Regions from separate parts of the Homo sapiens genome. Here region 1 is linked to region 2. The links come from fine-mapping of genetic effects on gene expression. Tissue or cell type: gastroesophageal junction. Region 2 holds a variant in brackets; the other region holds the start of a gene. All regions are shown on one strand. Distances are from middle to middle. Region 1 holds the start of AKTIP (AKT interacting protein). Region 2 overlaps RBL2 (RB transcriptional corepressor like 2).

Evidence for each region.
Region 1: AKTIP starts here. The variant in region 2 is fine-mapped to the expression of AKTIP in gastroesophageal junction (GTEx, PIP 0.97).

Annotation. Positions count from the first base shown.
Region 1 is chr16:53,499,677-53,508,065 of GRCh38, forward strand. AKTIP (AKT interacting protein) reads right to left here and starts at 3,533. Exons shown (of 10, transcript NM_022476.4): 1 at 3,471-3,533; 2 at 542-653. The coding sequence starts at 583. LOC124903690 (a long non-coding RNA gene) reads left to right here and starts at 4,704. Exons shown (of 2, transcript XR_007065069.1): 1 at 4,704-4,744; 2 at 5,065-6,302. RefSeq lists enhancers at 2,729-3,230, 3,231-3,730, 4,191-4,290 and silencers at 3,001-3,300, 3,561-3,630, 3,651-3,890, 4,611-4,700.
Region 2 is chr16:53,470,074-53,482,538 of GRCh38, forward strand. RBL2 (RB transcriptional corepressor like 2) reads left to right here. Exons shown (of 22, transcript NM_005611.4): 15 at 1-112; 16 at 310-590; 17 at 673-849; 18 at 9,081-9,152; 19 at 9,813-9,918; 20 at 10,494-10,696; 21 at 11,598-11,762. Among named protein-coding and RNA genes, the nearest start is that of AKTIP, 27 kb to the right of the region's middle. The variant A/G (reference allele first, on the strand shown) is at 6,519.

The sequences.
Region 1 (8,389 bases), 28 kb after region 2:
GTCTCGATCTCCTGACCTCGTGATCTGCCCGCCTCGGCCTCTCAAAGTGCTGGGGATTACAAGCATGAGCCACCGTGCCCAGCTGGTTTTTATTTTCTTATTGTTTGCCTATTTTAACCTTTCCTAAAATGAAAATATATTTTTAAAAAATCATTTTATTTAGAAAAATTAAATTAGTGCCCCTCAAGTCTGATTTAATGATATTAGACTAGCCTTTCCCACAGCTGTTCTAACCGTAGAACCTTGAAGTTTAGTAGAAAACTACAATGTTACAAATTTCATCATGTGTAAATATAACCTAAATCATCTTAGAATTGTGATGACCAGAACGATTTCTATTTGAGATGCAATCCTAGTCTCAGAAACAGACTTCAACCAACAAAATAATTATTTCTCAAGAGTAAACCCTTAACTAGAAAAACCAGGTAATTTTGTCAAGATTACAGGTGACCGTGACAGATTATTTTAGCCTTCATTCTGACCCTATTTTCAGACACAGAAGCAAATGGGTTTTCTTACTGAATTTATCAACTATACCTACTTTGCGTACAGAGCTTGTAGACATGCTCCAGAAAGGGTTCATAACGTGTATTCCAAACAAAGAAAGTCAGTGGTGTATCATCCAAATCTTCTGTCTTCGGCATTCACTTTACCTTAAAACAAGACGGGAAGACATAGAAACATGCCAACACCAACCATTAAGACTTTTTTTTTTTTTTAAGATGGAGTCTCACTCTGTTGCCCAGGCTGGAGTGCAGTGGTGTGATCTCGGCTCACTGCAACCTCCACCTCCTGGGTTCAAGCGATTCTCCTGCCTCAGCCTCCTGAGTAGCTGGGATTACAGGTGCCTGCCACCATGCCCAGCTAAGTTTTGTATCTTTAGTAGAGACAGGGTTTCACCATGTTGGCCAGGCTGGTCTCGAACTCCTGACCTCAAGTGATCCACCTGCCTCAGCCTCCCAAAGTGCTGGGATTACGGGCATGAGCCACCACGCCCGGCCAACAGTTAAGACTTCTGAAATGATGAATAACTAATTATGACACCCTGGATATACAATATAATGTTATATAACAAGGGGTTATAAAAACCTAGGAAAAGGTCTTCAGGCATCTTCAGAAATAGTTTCCTTCTATACCCACCTCCTTTTCTGGTTCTAATTTCTTTCACACTTAGATGTCTATAAGAATCTGTGCACCAGGTCCCTTGGCCAGGATTCAGATTACTCAGTGACACAGATGAGCTTTGGTGCCAGAAATTCAGAAGATACGGACAACAGTTGTTACTAGCACATCTCGGCATTTAACTAACAGGAAAGCCAGACTCAGAATGCACTGTACCCACATACACATAAGTTGTATCACTGTTCCCAGGGTTATGGGAACAAACAATAGATACAAGGAGGCTGATTTAAGCGCTGCCTCAACTCACCTGAGTACAAAATGATTCCTCCAGCAAAGTATTAGCCAAAGAAATAAGAGAAAACAGGAAGGCACAGCACAAGTATGTCACTAAGACGACAAAAGTAGTTACCTGAGTCCTGTCAGTACCATCCCCCAATAAACTGCCTTCTACAACTTCGAAACATATAGAAACTGCAGGATCATGTACTTAAGGAACTGCCAAGCAATCCAGACAAATGCAACACAGGCACGCAAGAGAGACATTTCACAAGTACAGATCTTCCAGCCGAAGCTTCAAGTCGTGGATAAGAAAGCATGTCTCAAAGGTCATAAAGTCAGTGGGTCATTTACTAAAAATACAAAGAAGCAAAGGAAAAGCAGCCAAGCCCAGCTGTAAGAACAGCAACTTCCCTGCCCTGGTATTTCCCCCCAGGCTCTGTTACCTTTAAAGCAGAGCTCCTTCTCTGAATTCCTACTTGCACCAATCAAACGGCTGAAGGTGAAAAGGGTCAAAACTAAGCAACGTTTTCCTAATTTCTTAAACAGATCATGAGCAAACCATGTACTAAATGTCCCCAATCAGCAATAATTTGTCTTCTCTGACGAGCTTGTGACATCCAGGGACGTACCCAACCCAGGTCATCCATACCTTGCCAGTGCCCATTACTGCTGTTTTGTTTTCCAAGAGAAAATGCCACCCAGTAATTAAATCAGAGGAATGAAGATCCTGGCTCTTCTACTAGCATGGATAACATGCAATAAGTAACAACAGTTCTCCGCAAATCTGCCTTTAAAGGTGAGTATGACACACTGAATATACTTGAGATATCAAAAATGTGCGGGGGCATGTTCCCCTTTGGCTCAAATGAAGACACTGATTTTCAGATCTAGCAGTAATGTGCAGCACCCCAGTGTCCTCTAGGACACACCTAACACGGGACCGGATCCCTTGGGACACAGTGGTGTGCTCCACAACATACATTTAATGGGCTGGTGCAAACCTGTAAAGTCTCTTAAAGGTCTAACGCGTTAGGATTCTCTTTAAGAATCCAGTAAATTTTGTCCCCAGTTCTGCCTGTCATTAAGCAGGAGGTATTGTCTTCTGCTGCCTAACTTTGCTATGGATCTTTTAATCCAATGTTTCCAGCAGCAACATAATCACGAGAAACTGTAGCACACTTTTCAGGGTCTAGTCTAGGACAAGCACAGCATACATGTTCTGAGAGGAATGACATAGATGGAAGCAAGACATGTTACATCCTTGTCACTTGGAAACAATTTTAGAATTTCTGCCTGTTTGGCCACGGCTGCATTCCTTTACATCACCCAGCTGAGAAGTCTGGGTCTTCAGCCTGCGCGAATGACAGTGCGTGGCAGAGCTAAAACTAGGCTAAAACATGAGTGCTGCTGTTACTCTACATGCCACAGCGCACTCACATCACCCCGAATCGGACTTAAGAAATTACACGTTAAGAGGAGACAGAGCAGGGGCCAGAAAAAAAAAGATGAAAACGGCCCGGGCCAGGCTCGCTGGGGACAGCCGGGACCCGCGGCGGCCTCGGACCGGCACCCTCACCGCGGGCGGAAACCCGTCTCTGAGCACTCAGGGAATCTGGACAAACCTGTCTCGAGGTGATGCAAGGCGGGGGCCCTGTCCTGGCCTCGCAGCTAGCTCGATGCTGGCCCGGGAGCCGCGGGCCCCTCCAGTGGGGGGGCTCTGGGGCCCGGCGACGCCCCCTTAACCAGAGCTCGGGGTCGGGACCCGGCCGGGGAGGGCGGGCACGGGCCGGGGCGAGCCAGCTGGGCCCCCCTCTCCCTCGGGCCGGGCCAGCCCAGCTCCAGCCGCAGTCCCCAGCAGCAGTCCCGGGCTGCGAGGCGGCCAGCGCAGCAGGTGCCTGCAAACGCGCACAGGTGCCCGGCCCCGCCTCCGTGTCCCACTGCGGCCGCCGTCGCCGAGTCGCGAGCGCCTAGAAAGATGGACAAATGCCGGGCCCGTGGAGGCTGGCGGCCAGATTTACAGACACCTCAGCCCTCGCGTACCCACCAGCCTGCCGGGCAGTAAGCCTCACCCCAGTGCCTTCAATGCAGAGCTCCTGGCTGCCAAGCGCCGCCGCGGCCCGACAGCATCTCCCGCCGCAGCGCCAGCCCTGCCCCTGCTTGATCCCCGCCCCGCCCCACCCCGCCCTGCCCTGCCCTGCCCTGCCCTCGGCAGCGGGCTCCGCCCCCTGCTGCACGATCCTGGGGCCCGAGGCTTCCGCCTGGCCTCCCGGCGCCAACTGGCTCTCACACCTGCCCGTCAAAGACGTTCTTCCGGGGGCGTTGGGAAGAACACACTCGGTCCTGCAAATCAAATCACCCCGGTTTGGGTGGGACTGCACTTGACCCTCCCCTTACGTAACAGCGCCTGGGACGGCCTGTCAGTCATGGAAGTATCGGCCCCCCGGGGAGGGATGGGGCAGAGACAAACAAGCGCCGGGTCACAATTGGCCAGGGCGTCTGCCAGTCACCACGGAGACCTTCCCGGAGGTTTATTCGCACAGCCCACAGCGCAACCGCCATGCGCAGGGGCTGGGGCATACGCTAACGTCTGCAAGCCAAGCTTTTGGGGAGGGCCGGGCCGCGCGACTGCCCAGTGGCTCCCATCGCTAGGTCCTACTGCGTTGGGCGGCGCTGCGAGGCCCGAGGCCGCCACGTCGGGCCCACAGGGTACCAGGGGTCAGAAGGACACTTGGCGTGGCATCAAGAAACGCCCGTTCTCTCCATCAGTGCAGGAGCTGAAGGCTGGAGCTGAAGGGAGCTCAGCTCCAAGTGGGCCCTGGGCACTAGAGCAGCCAGAGGAGCTTTGTAAATCTGTGTGTGTCGGCCCCGACCTGCAGCATCCGAGTGGGGGCCGGGGGCTGGGGGGAGGGGGGAGGCTGAGGACCAGGAATCCACATCTGTCACAGTTCGCTGCTGATTCTGGCGCACACTGAAGTTGGAGAACCTCTCCCATAGCAACATAGTTCCTGGTCTTTTTTTTTTTTTTTTTTTTTAATTCACACGCTCTCATTTGGACCTCCCGTCTGCTTTCCCATGGAGGTCTCTCTCTGGCCTAATTCTGTGACTGCTGCCAGCTGCTTTCCAGGCCTGTTCTTACCAACGGTGCCTCCCCGTGGTTAGTCCGTCCAATCTCGGCACTCCACTTCCACACTTGCGCGACAGCCCTCTCCCCGCAAGCCCCTGCCCCTTTTCTAGACACCAGAGGCACTGACCTGTCTGTGACACCGCCTCAGTGTCTTACACTCAGAAGCCGCATTCTCTGGCCGGGTTGTTTGGTCCATTTTTGGTTGCCTCTGAGATTCTGGTAAGTGACTTATTAAAGGGCAGGAAGCCAAATTCTCCTGATGTTAATCCCAAGGGTTGGTTCTGAAACCCAGCTTCCTCCCCTAGCTGAAAACACTTCTGAGCCACTTCCTTTTGTCCCCTTAGGACACATTTAGGAATGTTATCATGCCTTTTAATACGAGTCTTAATACAGAAAGGCAGGCAAGCAGGAAATCCTTTTTTCAGGCCACAGGTGGTCTCCTTTGGCACCTCTGTGGCCCATTTCCTCCCAATCTTCTTTGAAGCTCATTATCCTCTGCAAAGCTTTTTTTCTGCTTTCCTCCTTTCCCCAACCTTCAGTTTTCACCGAGGACCCACATAGGTATTTCTCCAGCTCACATCTATCCACTGAGCTTCCAATGCATGTCATCAACTGCGTACTTGGCACCGGATGACTCAGACGCACACCAGCATCAGACTGCACATGGCAGGAAAGCCAACTCAAACCGGCTTACTTAGCAAGGGGATTTCTCTCCCATGGGAGGATTGTCTCCAGAGGTGGTGCCCTGGTCTTCAGGCTCTGCTTTCCTTGCAGTCCCTGGAATTGCACTTTCAGGCTGGTAGCAAGATGGCCGCGGCACACCCAGGATCTCACAAAATTAAAAGTATCCCTTTCTTCCAGTGGTCCCTTTTGAAATACATGACTACCTTTCCCAGAAGCTCCGCAGAAGAAATGCCTGCAGGTTTCAATGGCCAGAAGTAAGTCTCTGGCCACAACGAAACCCAGTCAACGGCAAGTGGAAGGAGTCCGCCATGATCGACTTGGGCTGAGATTTTCCCTAGATCTCTGCCTGGACTTTAGGCAGAGGAGAGCCATGATCAGATTTGTATTTTGAAAACATCACTTTGTGCGGAAAACAGATTGTAGGGGCACAAGGCTCACGGGGCAGTTGAGGAACCATGGCAGTAGTTCAGGCAACAGAGAATCGCATGAATTTGAAGGTAGAGATGGAGAATTGAATGAGTTCCAGAGATGTTTAAGACGGGATGATATAGTTTGGATATGGTTTGACCCTTCCAAACCTCATATTGAAATGTGACCCCCAATGTTGAAAGTGGGGCCTGGTGGGAGTATTTGGGTCATGGAGGCTGATCCCTCATGAAAGGCTTGGTGCTGTCCTGGCAGTAGTGAGTTCTTGGCAGTAGTGAGTGAGTTCTATTAGTTCCCGAGAGAATTGATTGTCAAAAAGAGCCTGTCACCTTCTCCTCCCCTGACCACTGCTCTCTCTCTTGCCAAATGATTCCTGCTGGCCTCTCCCTCTGCCATGAATGGAAGCTTCCTGAGGTCCTCACCAGAAGATGCTGGTGCCATGCTTCTTATACTTAGTTGCCTCTGTCTTTCATTTGACATATATTTATTGCATGCTTAATGACATCTAGGCTTTAAATGCTGGGGAGGCGTTGGAGAACAAAACAGACATTGTTCCTCCTCATGGAGCTACGGGAGATAGATGCTAATCAAGTCATCTCCCAAATCAATGGCTAATTGCCCCAAGGAAGTGGACAATGAGCTGAATAAACCTCTTTTTAAAAATAAATGACCCAGCCTCAGGTATTCCTTTATAGCAACACTGATGGATTCATACAGGTGGGGTGGACAGAGCTTGGCCATGGACTAGGTATGGGGGATGAAGAGGCAGATATGGCTGACACCTAGATTTTTAGCATGAGCTACAGGATGGATGGTGAGGCCATTCACTGAGGTGACAAACAGTGAACCACAAGCAGGTTTGGGACAGTGGGAAATGGGAAAATCTGGGTTGTGTTTTGGGTAGGTATGTTTGGGGTGTTTCTGTAAGCACTATTGCCTGTATACCTAATACCCACTTCTCCCTTTTTCATTGCTGACAGAACCTCCATTTTCTTGAGGAATTTAAGCCCTTCAGTGGTTCCCCATTGGGCAAAGACCAAACTCCTCACCATGGCTGTGTCCCAGCCCCAGGTGGCTGCAGACTCCAGCCACTCTGACATTCTTCCAGTTCCTTGGAAGGGAGTTGCTCCCCTACCTGCCCTGCCACAAAAGGGGCCTTCGCAGTGAACGTTCCCTTTGCCCAGTTCATTCTCTTCAATCCCCTACACAGATCTCAGCTCTAACACTACTTCCTTGGGGGCAATTTGCTGTTGATTTGGGAGATTATTAGTGTCTGTCTCCCACACTGTAAGCTCCTGAGGAGGAACCATTTTTTTGCTTTCTATTGTCTCCCCGGCACCCAAGAGCTAGATGTTGTAGGCATGCAATAAATATTTGCCAAATGAAGGACAGAAGAAACAAAAGTACATTTGAAACACCTACCTGCACGCCCACAGGTCTGCACCAAGAAAGCAACTCATTATGAAAATCAGGATGATTTATTCAAAGGGAAATGAGGAGGTGGCCTCAAGGTACCATTTCTTTAAGACTAAAACATAAAGTGCTGAGAAAAATCTCAATGGACCCAAAACCTTACCTATAAAACATTTTAAATCGCTTCATATTACATTTCCTATTCTCAATTTTTGAAGCATATTTGATATATTTGCACCAAAAGGTTCTTTTTGCATCCAGACTTAATAGATATGTGATCTCTGAGTATTCAGGACTTCTGCTCATGTTCTAATCAGCAAAATATTCCCTGAATCATACATCTTTTGGACTCCGGAAAAGTAACTGTACAAAGCTGTTTAGATCACTGACTTAACTATTAAAGGCCTTCACAGAAAGAAGGAAAGGATAAAATGTTGAAGGTTGTTAAAATACATATGTTTCATACACAGGCACACATATAAGCCGATGTTTTTAGCGCAATCCATTTGCCCCCAAGTCCTTTTCTGAAAAGTAGATTCCTGTATACATGTCACTGATTACATATACTGTTCAAAATATGGGAGGATGATCTAGCTATACATATTAATGTCTTTGAAAAAATATACTTAGCACATTAAAGCCATTATTTTATGGGTAATAATGTTTAGGATGAGACCAAAGTAGGCATTTAATGTTGTTGTTTTTTTTAAGTAAATGGATTTAAGGGAGATCAGATAGTTGTCCTATAGTTAACAATGATCCTCAGACAAGACAGAAATCACAAACTTTTAAGAATTATTGAAGGTTTAGAAATGCTGCTATAGACGGATGATGTGGCTTTCTTCCTTTCCATAGCCTCATCGAGCGATACGGTTCTTGCTTATAACATCACACATGTGCTTCCAGGTTTTGGTTGCATCATGTTTTCCTCCCTATCCCATTACCCATAACTCCTATCCCTGAGCAAGTGGGTGGGCGGGTGGAGGAATGAATTTTACAGACAGACTACAACATTTCAAAATGAAATCAGGGTAGCTGATGGACCACTGCGGATATTTATGTCTTAAGGAAAAGCAACCAATATATGATACGGCTGCTCATTCAGGGCTGAAGAGAACTGATTTCCTTTTATAATCAAACAGCATTTTGAACGTGGTCTGACACCGCAAATAATCCCCACTCCCTCAGCACGCTGATGACTGTACCCACAGCCATAAGAGCAGTGTTCTCTTTGATTCAGTTTATCTTTGGGAAACCACTTCACTCTGTGGTCTCAAAGCATTTGGAATGATGATAAAGGCTTGAGTTAGTTTTATCTAGAGTGGCACACTCAGAAAACCA
Region 2 (12,465 bases):
GTATCTGGGGAGACTGTTTCTGTCACACCAGTTCCTGGACAGACTTTGGTCACCATGGCAACCGCCACTGTCACAGCCAACAATGGGCAAACGGTAACCATTCCTGTGCAAGGTAAGGAAGGCAGAGTTGGATATTGAGTTCCTTCTCTGTGGCATGTATTGAAAAGTTACCCGAGGTTTGGCTAGAGTGACATAGGGGACAGAGGAGTGATGGGGAGAGAGGGTTTGGGAGAGCAGAAATTGTAAACCTCTGCCCGGAGAACCTCTTATTATCAACATTTTCTTCATGCTTTTTTTCTCTGTCACTAGGTATTGCCAATGAAAATGGAGGGATAACATTCTTCCCTGTCCAAGTCAATGTTGGGGGGCAGGCACAAGCTGTGACAGGCTCCATCCAGCCCCTCAGTGCTCAGGCCCTGGCTGGAAGTCTGAGCTCTCAACAGGTGACAGGAACAACTTTGCAAGTCCCTGGTCAAGTGGCCATTCAACAGATTTCCCCAGGTGGCCAACAGCAGAAGCAAGGCCAGTCTGTAACCAGCAGTAGTAATAGACCCAGGAAGACCAGCTCTTTATCGCTTTTCTTTAGAAAGGTAATTTTTCACATACCTTATCAGAGCATGAGCTTGGGAAATACAAGTGTTAAACAAAGTTTGAAATGTTTTTATCTCCTAGGTATACCATTTAGCAGCTGTCCGCCTTCGGGATCTCTGTGCCAAACTAGATATTTCAGATGAATTGAGGAAAAAAATCTGGACCTGCTTTGAATTCTCCATAATTCAGTGTCCTGAACTTATGATGGACAGACATCTGGACCAGTTATTAATGTGTGCCATTTATGTGATGGCAAAGGTGAGTACCATTTGGAATTGTAAAGGCAAAGATAGGTCTTCATTACTGAGAACATTTTTTAACCACTGTCTTGAGATACAGTTTACATGCTCTATAATTCACCTATTTAAAATGCACAACTAAATGGGTCTTAGTATATTCACAGATATGTGCAATACTCACCACAATTTTAGAACATAATATTCCATTGTATAGTTATATGAGAGTATTTTTATCCATTTATTAGCTAATGTATATTTTAGTTGTTTCTACTTTTGGCATATATGCATAATACCACTATTAGCATTTGTGTTTGGGTTTTTGTATAGACATGTATTTTCATTTCTCTAGGGTATATACCTAGGAATGGGCTGCTGGGTCATACATTAACTGTGTTTTAACTATTTAGGGAATTGCTAGATTGTTTTCCAAAGTACTGTACCATTTTACACTTACACAGCAGTATAATAAAGATTTTAGTTTCTCCACTATCTCATTAACACTTACTATCTTACTTTGTTTAAATAACTTATTGAGGAGAAATTCACATAACATAAAATTAATTGGGTTTTTCTTTTTTTTTTTGAGATGTTGTTTCATTCTTGTCACCCAGGCTGGAGTGCAGTGGTGCATCTCAGCTCACTGCAACCTCTGCCTCCCAGGTTCAAGCGATTCTCCTGTCGTAGCCTCCCGAGTAGCTGGGATTACAGCCATGTGCCACCATGCCTGGCTAATTTTTGCATTTTTAGTAGAGATGGGGTTTGACCATGTTGGCCAGGCAGGTCTCAAACTCCTGACCTCAGGTGATCTGCCCACCTCGGCCTCCCAAAGTGCTGGGATTACAGGCATGAGCCACTGGGCCCAGCCAAATTAACTATTTTAAGTTGAACAATTTAGGAGCATTTAGCACATTTACAGTACTAAGTGTAATAAATGGTTGTATACTCACCACCTCTGTCTAGTTCCAGAACATTTCCGTACCTGCAAAGTAAAACTCCTTTCCTATTAAGTAGTTTCTCCCCATTCTACCTCCCACAGCACCTGGCAACCAGCAGTTGGCATTCTGGCTGTATGGATTTATCTGTTCTTAATCGTTTATAGAAATGGTACAATATGTGACCTCTTGTGTATGGCTCCTTTTACTTAGGATAATATTTTCCAGGTTTACCCATGTTGCAGCATGTATCAGTACTTCATTCCTTTTTATGACTGAATGATATTCCATTGTATGGATAGGCACAATTTTTTTCTCCACTCATACACTGATGGATATTTGGGCTGTTTCCAACTGTTGGCTATAGTGAATAGCACTGTTGTGAACAGGTATATCATGTACCTGTTTGAGTGCCCATTTTCAGTCCTTTTGAGTTTATTCCTAGGAGTGGAACTGCAGGGTCATATGGTGATACTATGTTTAACTTTTTTGAAGAACCACCGTACCATTTTCCACAGAAGCTGCACCATTTGACATTGCTACCAGTAATGCACAAGAGTTCCAGTTTCTCCACATCCTTGCCAACTTATTATTTTTATTATAGCCATCTTAGCGGGTATTGGGTGATATATCATTGTGGTTTTGATTTTCATTTGCCTGATAACTAAGGATGTCAAGCATCTTTTCATGTGCTTACTGGCCATTTGCATATCTTATTTGGAGAAATATCTTTAAATCCTTTGCCCATTTTAAAATTATGTTATTATTGAGTTGTTGGAATTCTTTATTTTGGATACAACTACCTTCTCAGATGTATGATTTGCAAATATTTTCTCCCATTCGGTGTATCTTTTCACTTACTCGATAGTGTCATTTGAAGCATAAAAGTTTTTAATTTTGATGAAGTCCAGTTACCTGTTTTTTGGTTTGTTACTTGCACTTTGGGTGTCCTAAGAATCCATTACCAAACCCAAGGTCTTTTGATTTTTATAGTTTTATCTCATAGTTAGGTCTTTGATCAATTTTGAGTAATTTTTGTGTATGGTATGAGGTAGCAGTCCATTTCCATTCTGATTATGTGGTTGTGCAGTTGTCTCAGCACCATTGTTGAAAAGAAGATTTTTTTCCTCACTGAATGGCCTTGGTACCCTCCTTTAAAATCAATTGACCGTTGACAACATTTGGGTTTATTTCTGAACTCTAAATTCTATTCCACTGGACTATATGCCTATCCTTATGCAATACCATATTCTCTAGATTAGAGAGTTGCTTTCTTATAAGTTTTGAAATTGGGAAATATGAGTGCTCCTACTTTTTTTTTCTTTTCAAGATTATTTTCGAAGTCCCTTGAAAAATGAATTTTAGAATCAAATTATCAGTTTCACAAAGGAATAAGCTAGGATTCTGATAGGGTTGCACTGAATCTGTAGATCCATTTGGGGAGTATTGCCATCTTAACAATTTTATATCTTCTGATCCATGAACATAGGATGTTTTTCCATTTATTTAGATCTTCTGTTTTTTTTTCAACAATGCTTTGTACTTTTCAGAGTATGTTTGCAATTCTTTTGTTAAATTTATTCCTATTCTTGTTGATGCTATTCCAAGTGTAGTTGTTTCATTGTTAACGTGTTCATTGCAAGTGTATAGAAAAACACTTTTGTATATTGATCTAGTATCCAGCAACTTTGCAGAAGTTATTAGTTCTAATAGTTTTCTAGTAGATTCCTTAGGATTACTATGTAGGAAATCATGTAATCTGCTTATAATTTTACTTCTTGTCCAAACTGGATGCCTTTTATTTCTTTTTCTTTCCTAATTATCTTGCTAGAACTTCCAGTATAGTTGAACAGAACTGTCGAAAGCAGAAATCCTTGTCTTGATCTTAGGTGGAAAGCATCTAGTTTTTCACTATTAAAGTATGATAGTAGTTATGGTTTTTTTCATAGATGCCCTTTATCAGGTTGAGGAAGTTCCCTTCTTTTCTTAGTTCATTGAGTGTTTTTTTTATCATGAAAGGGCATTAGATTTTGTCAAATGCTTGTGTGTCCATTGAGATGATCGTGTGCTTATTTTTTTTATTCTATTAATATAGTATATTACACTGATTAATCTTCCTATGTTAAACCAGCCTTGCATTTCTGGTGTAAATCCCTCTCAGTCATGGTGTGTAAGTCTTATTTTTTTCTTTTTTTGAGACAGTGTCTCGCTCTGTTACCCAGGCTAGAGTGCAGTGGTGAGATCATAGCTCACTACAAGCAGTCCTCCCACCTTCATCTCCTGAGTAGCTGGGACTACAGGTACATGCTGCCATGCCTGGCTAATTTTTTAAATTTTTTGTAGACAGGGTCTACCTTGTTGCACAGGCTGGTCTCGAACTCCTAAGCTCAAGCAGTCCTCATGCCTCAGCCTCCCAATGTGTTGGGATTATAGGCGTGAGCCACTGCACCCGGCTGCTGTAATTCTTTTATTTATTTATTTATTTATTTATTTATTTTGAGATGGAATTTCGCTCTTGTTGCCCAGGCTGGAGTGCAGTGGCGAGATCTTGGCTCACCGCAACCTCCGCCTCCCAGGTTCAAGCAATTCTCCTGCCTCAGCCTCCCAAGTAGCTGGGATTACAGGCATGTGCCACCACCCCTGGCTAATTTTGTATTTTCAGTAGGGACGGGGTTTCTCCATATTGGTCAGGCTGGTCTCAAACTCCCAACCTCAGGTGATCCACCTGCCTCGGCCTCCCAAAGTGCTGGGATTATAGGCGTGAGCCACGGTGCCCAGCCTATAATTCTTTTTATATGTTGCTAGGTTTGGTTTGCCAACAGTTTGTTGAGGAATTTGTTTTCAGTTAAAAAAAATATTTATTTTTTCAAGTTTCCACATGCAGCAGTGATTGCTAAGGAATTTTATCCTTATGCATAAGAGGCATTGGTCTGTAGTTTTCTTGTTGTGGCTTTGTCTGGTTTTATTATCAGGGTAATAATGGTCTCATAGAATTGAGTAGGAAGTGTTCTCTTCTATATTTAGGTATTATATTTTTTCCTTTGCCTTTTTTTTTAATTTACAGCTGCCTGAAAGACCCATGGATATGAGCTTCTTGGTATTAATGTTTTAAAGTTTGGTAGAATTCAGCAGCGAAGCTGTTGAGACCAGAGATTTTCCTTGTGGGAAGTTTATTGGTGAATAATTCCGTCTCTTATTTGTTATAGGTCTATTCAGATCATCTGTTTCTTCTAGAATCAGTTGTGGTAGTGTATGTCTTTCTAAGAATTTGTCTGTTTCCTCTGGGCTAAATTGTTGGCAAATAATTATAATATTTCCTTCTGTTCTTTTTTATTCTTTAAGGTCAGTAGTAATGTCCTTTTCCTTTTATGATTGTAGTTTTCGTTTTGTTTTGTTTTTTGAGACAGTCTCACTCTGTTGTCCAGGCTGGAATACAGGGGCATGATCTTGGCTTACTGAAACCTTAGCCTCCTGGTTTCCAGTGATTCTTGTGCCTCAGCCTCCTGAGTAGTTGGGACTACAGGCCTGTGCCACCTCGCCCAGCTAGTTTTTGTATTTTTAGTAGAGATGGAATTTCCCCATGTTGCCCAGGCTGGTCTCAAACTCTTGGCCTCAAGCGATCCATCCACCTTGGCCTCCCAAAGTGCTGGGATTGCAGGCATGAGCCCCTGTGCCCTGCTTTTTGTAGTAGTTTGAGACTCCTCCCTTTTGTTCTTGGTCTAGCTAAAGGTTTGTCAATTTTCTTGATCTTTTTCTTTTAAAAACCAGCTTTTTGGTTTCATTTATCTATTTTTGTGTTCTTTATTCATTAGTATATAATCTTATTTCCTTCTTTCTGCTTACTTGAGGCTTACTTTTTGCCCTTTTCTGTTGTTTTAAGATGGTTTAAGATGGATGTTTAGGTAATTAATTTACTATTTCTCTTAATATCTTTTTTCCCCAAATCCTTTACGTAGATATCAGTATCTTTTAAAAGATACCTTTCTAATATTTCAATATCTTTTTTTTTTTTTTTTTTTTTTTTTTTTGAGACAGCATCTTGCTCTGTCGCCTAGGCTGGAGTGTAGTGCTCACGGCAGCCTTCCTCCAGGGCTTAAGTGATCCTCTTCCCTAAGCTTCCTGAGTAGCTGGGACCACAGCCGTGCACCACCATGCCCTGCTAATTTTTTGTAGATACGAGATTTTGCTGTGTTACCCAGGCTGGTCTCGAACTCCTGAGCTCAAGCAATCCTCCCTCCTCAGCCTCCCAAAGTGCTGGGATTACAGGTGTGAGCCACCGCCCTTGGCCCTTCTTCATTTTCAGTGTAAGCATTAACAACTCTAAATTTTCCTCCGTGCACTGCTTTAGCTGCATGAGTGTTGGTATGGTGTGTCTTCATTTCAAAAGTATTTTCTGATTTCTTTTTTTGGCTTCTGTTTGACTCACTGGTTATGTAGCAATATGTTGTTAACTTCGTATTTGTAAGTTTCCCAAATTTGTTACTGATTTCTACTTTCATTGTGATTGAAAACACACTTCATTTTATTCCAGTTCTTTTAAATATATTAAGAATTGTTTTATAGCCTAGCATATATGCTCTATCCTAATGAATTTCAAAGTACATTTGAGAACAGTGTGTATTCTGTGGAGGTTGGGGAGAGTGTTCTGTAGATGTCTGTTAGGTCTAATTGTTTTATATTGTTAGTAAAGTGTTTTGTTTCCTTGTTGATCTGCCTAGATCATCTCTCCATTCTTGAAAGTGAGGTACTGAAATCT[A/G]TAAATATTATTGCTGAATTGTCTACTTTTCCCTTCACTTCTGTCACTTTTCGCTTCAGGTATTTTTTGTGCTCAGTTATTAGGTATGTGTATAACTGTTATAGATTCCTGATGGCTTGATCCTTTTATCATTATGGAATGTCCCTTTTTAATAACTTTTTTTGTCCTGAAGTCTGATTTATAGTGTGAGATATATAGTCACCCAGCTTTCTTATGGTTGCTGTCTGTATACCTCTTTCCATCCTTTCATTTTCGAATGTATTTGTATTTTTTAAATCTAAAATGTCTCCTGTAGATAAAATACATTTGGATTTCTTTTGCCTTTTGACTATGTATATAATTGGATTTACATCTGCCATTTTACTTTTTGTTTTCATGTCTTTCCCTTTGCCTTTGCAGCTTTGCTTTTGCATTAGGTCAATATTTTCTAAAGTAGCATTTTAACGTCAGTACTTTGGTTTCATTTTGTGTGTGTGTGTGTGTGTGTGTGTAGTGGTTGCCCTAGGGCTTACCATATATCTCTTATCAAAAATCAGCTTCAGATTATACTGACTTAATTCCAGTGAGATATAGGAGTGTTAACTGTTTCGTTACACATATTACATCCATAAATGTACAACTCCACCAGTACATTGTTATAATTATTGATACAATTTTATGACTTCTAAAGTAGCAGAAAGGAAAGGAGTGTAAGTATGTATTTAAAACTTTTGCTCTAGTAACCTTATTAATAATTTCTGGTTTCCTTTCTTTCTTTCTTTTTTAAGACTGAGTCTTGCTCTGTCGCCCAGACTAGAGAGCAGCGGTGCAATCTCAACTCACTGTAACCTCTGCCTCCCGGGCTCAAATGATCCTTCTGCCTCAGCCTCCCATGTAGCTGGGCCTACAGGGTGCAGGCATGTGCCACCATGCCCGGCTGATTTTTGTATTTTTTTGTAGAGACGGGGTTTTGCCATGTTGCCCAGGCTGGTGTCGAACTCCTGGCCTCAAGCAGTTCACTTGCCTCAGCCTCACAAAATGTTGGGATTACAGGAGTAGCCACTACACCCAGCCTATTTCTATTTCTCTTATTCATTCCTGTGTATGTGAGTTGCCATCTGGAGTAATTTCCTTTGCTCAATATGGCTTTGCTCCTGCCTACCTCCTTTGTACTGTTGTAGGCAAATATGTTACATTTTTGTATGTTATGGGTACATTATATATATATATTATTTATACAATTGATTTTTTAATCAGTTAAGAAAGGAGAAGAAATGTGCAGTTATACTGTATTTACGATTACATAATTATCTTTACCAGTGCTCTTGGCTTTCTTCATGTGTAGTGTTGTCCAGGGGCATTTGCTTTTGGCTTCTAGAATTTTGTGTAGTATTTCTTGTAAGGGGTTTGCTAGCACCAAATTCTGTTTTTGTTTATCTGAGAGTATATTTATTTTACCTTCATTTCTGAAAGATAACTTGCAAAAATTTTGAATATTGACATTTCAGAGATAAAAATCTTGAGTAACTTTTTAATACTGGATTCTTAGTTTAATATTTTTTCTTTCATCACTTTGAATGTTATCCCACTGCCTCCTGGCCTCTGTAGTTTCTGATTAGAAGTCAAATTTTATTTTATTGGGGTTTCCCTGTAACTGAAAAGTTGTTTTTCTCTTGATGCTTTTAATATTTTCTTTCTTTGGCTTTGAACATTTTTACTGTGATATATCTGGGTACGGATGAGTTTATCCTACCTGGAAGTCACTGAATGTCCTGGATATGTAATTTAATAAATTTGGGAAGTTTTCAGTATTTCTTTGAACATTTTTTTCTGCTTCTTTCTCTCCTCTCCTGATTCTCCCATTACACGTATGTTGATTTCCTTAATGGTGTGCCACATTTCTCTGAGGCTGTTTTTCTTCATTCTTTCTCTGTTCCTCAGATCACACAATCTCTTTCTTCATGTTTGCTAATCCTTTTTTTTTTTTTTTTGCTAGTTCAAATCTGTTTTCCCTAGCTTCTAGTGAATTTTTCATTTCATTTACTGTACTTTTCTACTCCAAGTCTTTTTTTGAGAGAGAGTCTTGCTCTGTCACCCAGGCTGTACAGTGGCTCAATCTCAGCTCACTGCAACCTCCATCTCCCAGGTTCAAGTGATTCTCCTGCCTCAGCCTCCCCAGTAGCTGGGATTACAGGCATGTGCCACCATGCCCGGCTAATTTTTGTATTTTTAGTAGATACTGGGTTTCACCATGATGGCCAGGCTGGTCTTGAACTCGTGACTTCAAGTGATCCACCCTCCTCAGCCTCCCAAAGTGCTGGGATTACAGGTGTGAACCACCGCACCTGGCCTCTAAGTCTTGATTCACATACTATAGACTCCTATTGTTTTTATTGAATTTTAATAGATATTCTTGAATCGATGTATCTTCATTTGCTATATGCCGTTAATACCATTTCCAGAGACTTTAAATAGCTTTTATATAATTTTCACCCCTTTTACTGGGCAGCAGGTTCACAGAGCTCCTCACACTATTATGGTGGTAGTTGCCATGTCTCTCAGAGCACTCTTATTGTTTGCCAGGTCACAAAAGAAGATAAGTCCTTCCAGAACATTATGCGTTGTTATAGGACTCAGCCGCAGGCCCGGAGCCAGGTAACTACATTTTCTCTATGGGCTGAAAAATAAAGCTTAAAGTCTGTGATGAATACAAAAAATTAACCATAGTTGACTCTGTGGCCTTTTTTCCAAGATAAACACCTGGGACTCTACTTAAGGGAAGTTTCTACTTTAATCTTTATTCTTGATGTCACATGTTGATTAAGGTCTCTTTTCCTCAAAAGGCAACAATGTTAAATATTTGATTGCCTTCTTAATTCAGAAAAATCACAAGATAGGAATTAAGAAGTTACTTGGTTTCTATGTCACCTTTCATTCTGGTTTAGTAAACATACTGTAGGTTTAACCAACAGAATGTCACATGGAAATTTAAAACCCACTTTGCCTTTATTACCATTCATCTCTGAGAGGCAAATCGGCCAGATCTGTGTATCTTACTTAGAATGACTTGACATTATGGTTGGGTGCTGTCACTGCAGTGTAGTACTGCAGGTAGTACTTGGCATGTGATGCTAGATGGGCTCTGATTGAATCCTGGATCTGTTATAATTTGAGTTATGTTTCTCAACCTGTTCTGAGGACAACTATTGCTATACAGGTTATTGTGAAAACCAAGTAACATATGTGAAGGTCCTATCACCAAGGGTGTGCTCAACAAATACTAGTTTATGTCCCCTTCTCATTGTTTCTCTAAAGGTGTATAGAAGTGTTTTGATAAAAGGGAAAAGAAAAAGAAGAAATTCTGGCAGCAGTGATAGCAGAAGCCATCAGAATTCTCCAACAGAACTAAACAAAGATAGAAGTAAGTGGGATCTTTGTGAACTACAAGACAAAATTAGGAGCTTTTCTTACTTTTTAGGCCTTGAAGAAGTAACTAAGCATTACTAAATGAAATAACTATAGAAACTATGAAAGTGTTTTATAGATCAGTAAACCATATTCTAGCTGGCAAAACTGTCCATTACATAGCTTTGGGGCACATATTATGTAACATTTTTCTCCAGGAGAATTAGAGCTTTCAGGGAGGAATCTGCTTGCCTGAGTTCCAGAAAGGTCTGATATGTCAATTGGAACCATGCTATGGAAATACCATCCCCTGCCTGTTGCTTTGTACCACTTAGTACAGGGCTTAGGTCCTAGAAAATTTGGTGTAACTTATTAATGGACACTACTCAGAAAGCCCTTGCTATGGTTATGGCATAGGGAGAAAGTTAATATCCTAGCTGAGCTTTGCTTTTTGGTGTGAAGAACAGAGTGCCTATTCACTGTTATTAGCAAGTAGTGCAGGTAGCTGTTCCCTTTCTCCTACTTTTAAAAAATTAAAACAGTCAATATTAGCAGCCTTTGTACTGACAGCCTTTGTTCTCCTGGCTGCAGCCAGTAGAGACTCCAGTCCAGTTATGAGGTCAAGCAGCACCTTGCCAGTTCCACAGCCCAGCAGTGCTCCTCCCACACCTACTCGCCTCACAGGTGCCAACAGTGACATGGAAGAAGAGGAGAGGGGAGACCTCATTCAGTTCTACAACAACATCTACATCAAACAGATTAAGACATTTGCCATGAAGTACTCACAGGCAAATGTAAGTATGACAGGGATTATTTCATACTTTTTTCACTCATGAGTGTTGAGGAATCATTTATGATTTATATATGGACCATTCACCTGGTCCGTATATAAACTAGTTTTGGCCAGGTGTGGTGGCTCACACCTGTAATCCCAGCACTTTGGGAGGCCGAGGAGGGCAGATCACTTGAGGTCAGGAGTTCAAGACCAGCCTGGCCAACGTGGTAAAACCCAGTCTCTACTAAAAATACAAAAATGAGCTGGGCGTGGTGGCACACACTTGTAATCCCAGCTACTCTGGGGGCTGAGGCAGGAGAATTGTTTGAACATGGGAGGCGGTGGTTGCAGTGACCTGAGATTGTGCCACTGCACTCCAGCTTGGGTGACAGAACAAGACTCTGTCTCATAAATAAGCTAGTTTTACAAATAATTCTATTAAGTAAAACTGAGGAGGTCTGTAATTTACCTAACCAATATAAATTCTACTGTTGTTAAGCATTAAACGAGTAAGATTGTATTTGGAGTCCCTACAAAGTATAGTAGTACAAGAGACAGGCTACATGGGTTCAAATTTTCCAGTACTTAACAGTGGTGGTAACCTTGCAAATCATTAAATTTTCTCTGTACCTCATTTCCTCATATATAAAATGGGAATATAACTAGTTCCTAGCATATGGGGTTGTTGTAAGGATGAAATGACATAATGTATAAAAATTGCTTAAAATAATAACTGGCACAAACTAAGCACTTAAGGTTTGCTATTAGAATATTTTTCTTTAGGTTAAGTTATTGCTAATACATCACTCTGTCATTCATAAAACTACTGGTTTAGCACACCTCTTCACTCAATAATCATTTTCAGTAAAAATAATTATAAATTTTTTTCTTAGAATTACTGATTTTTTTTTTTTAAACAGATGGATGCTCCTCCACTCTCTCCCTATCCATTTGTAAGAACAGGCTCCCCTCGCCGAATACAGTTGTCTCAAAATCATCCTGTCTACATTTCCCCACATAAAAATGAAACAATGCTTTCTCCTCGAGAAAAGATTTTCTATTACTTCAGCAACAGTCCTTCAAAGGTGAGCCTAACATCAATCTTGGCCTTTACTAACCTCAAAATGCTTCAGATGCTAGAAACAGGGTTTGTGCTAAGCTTAGGCACTCATTAGAGTGATGAGAGCTGCCAGGGAGCAGTGATCAGTCAGTCCTCATGAAGCAAAACCCAGGGTTTGTTTTGTTTTTTGCCTTTTTTGAGGGGGAGGGGGTGGAATTTTAGGGTGGGAAACAGGGTAAGGGATTTGGATTTCTTTTTATTCCCTCTCCTATTTGTACATTTTGCTGTAAACCTGAAATTTGTGTTTATCCCATTTGTAACAATTTTCCACATTTGTTAGGGAAAGAAATTTTGGATTCCTTACCAAAGGCCTGTTTCTGGGACAGGCAGTGTCCTCAGGACTCTGGCTAATGGGAGAAGTTGACATTTTTGACATTGCAGTGCAATAGTCATATTAGCACAGATGTATGTGGCAACAGCCACCTCATTCTAAGAAGGGGAAGGAAGCTTGAGTCAGGCCTTAATGTTGAAAAGTCAGGGAGCTGTTGAGGTATGGAAGGGCACTCAGCAGGAAGCAGGTTAAGGGGAAGAAAACAGTGTCCTTGAGGCAGACAGTGATCCAAAGCTTAATTACGGGCATCATGCTATGTTAGCGAGTGGAACTGGATTGTGAAGGCCCTTACATAATGAGATTTTTATTGATAAAGGTTGCTTAGAGGCTGGGCGTT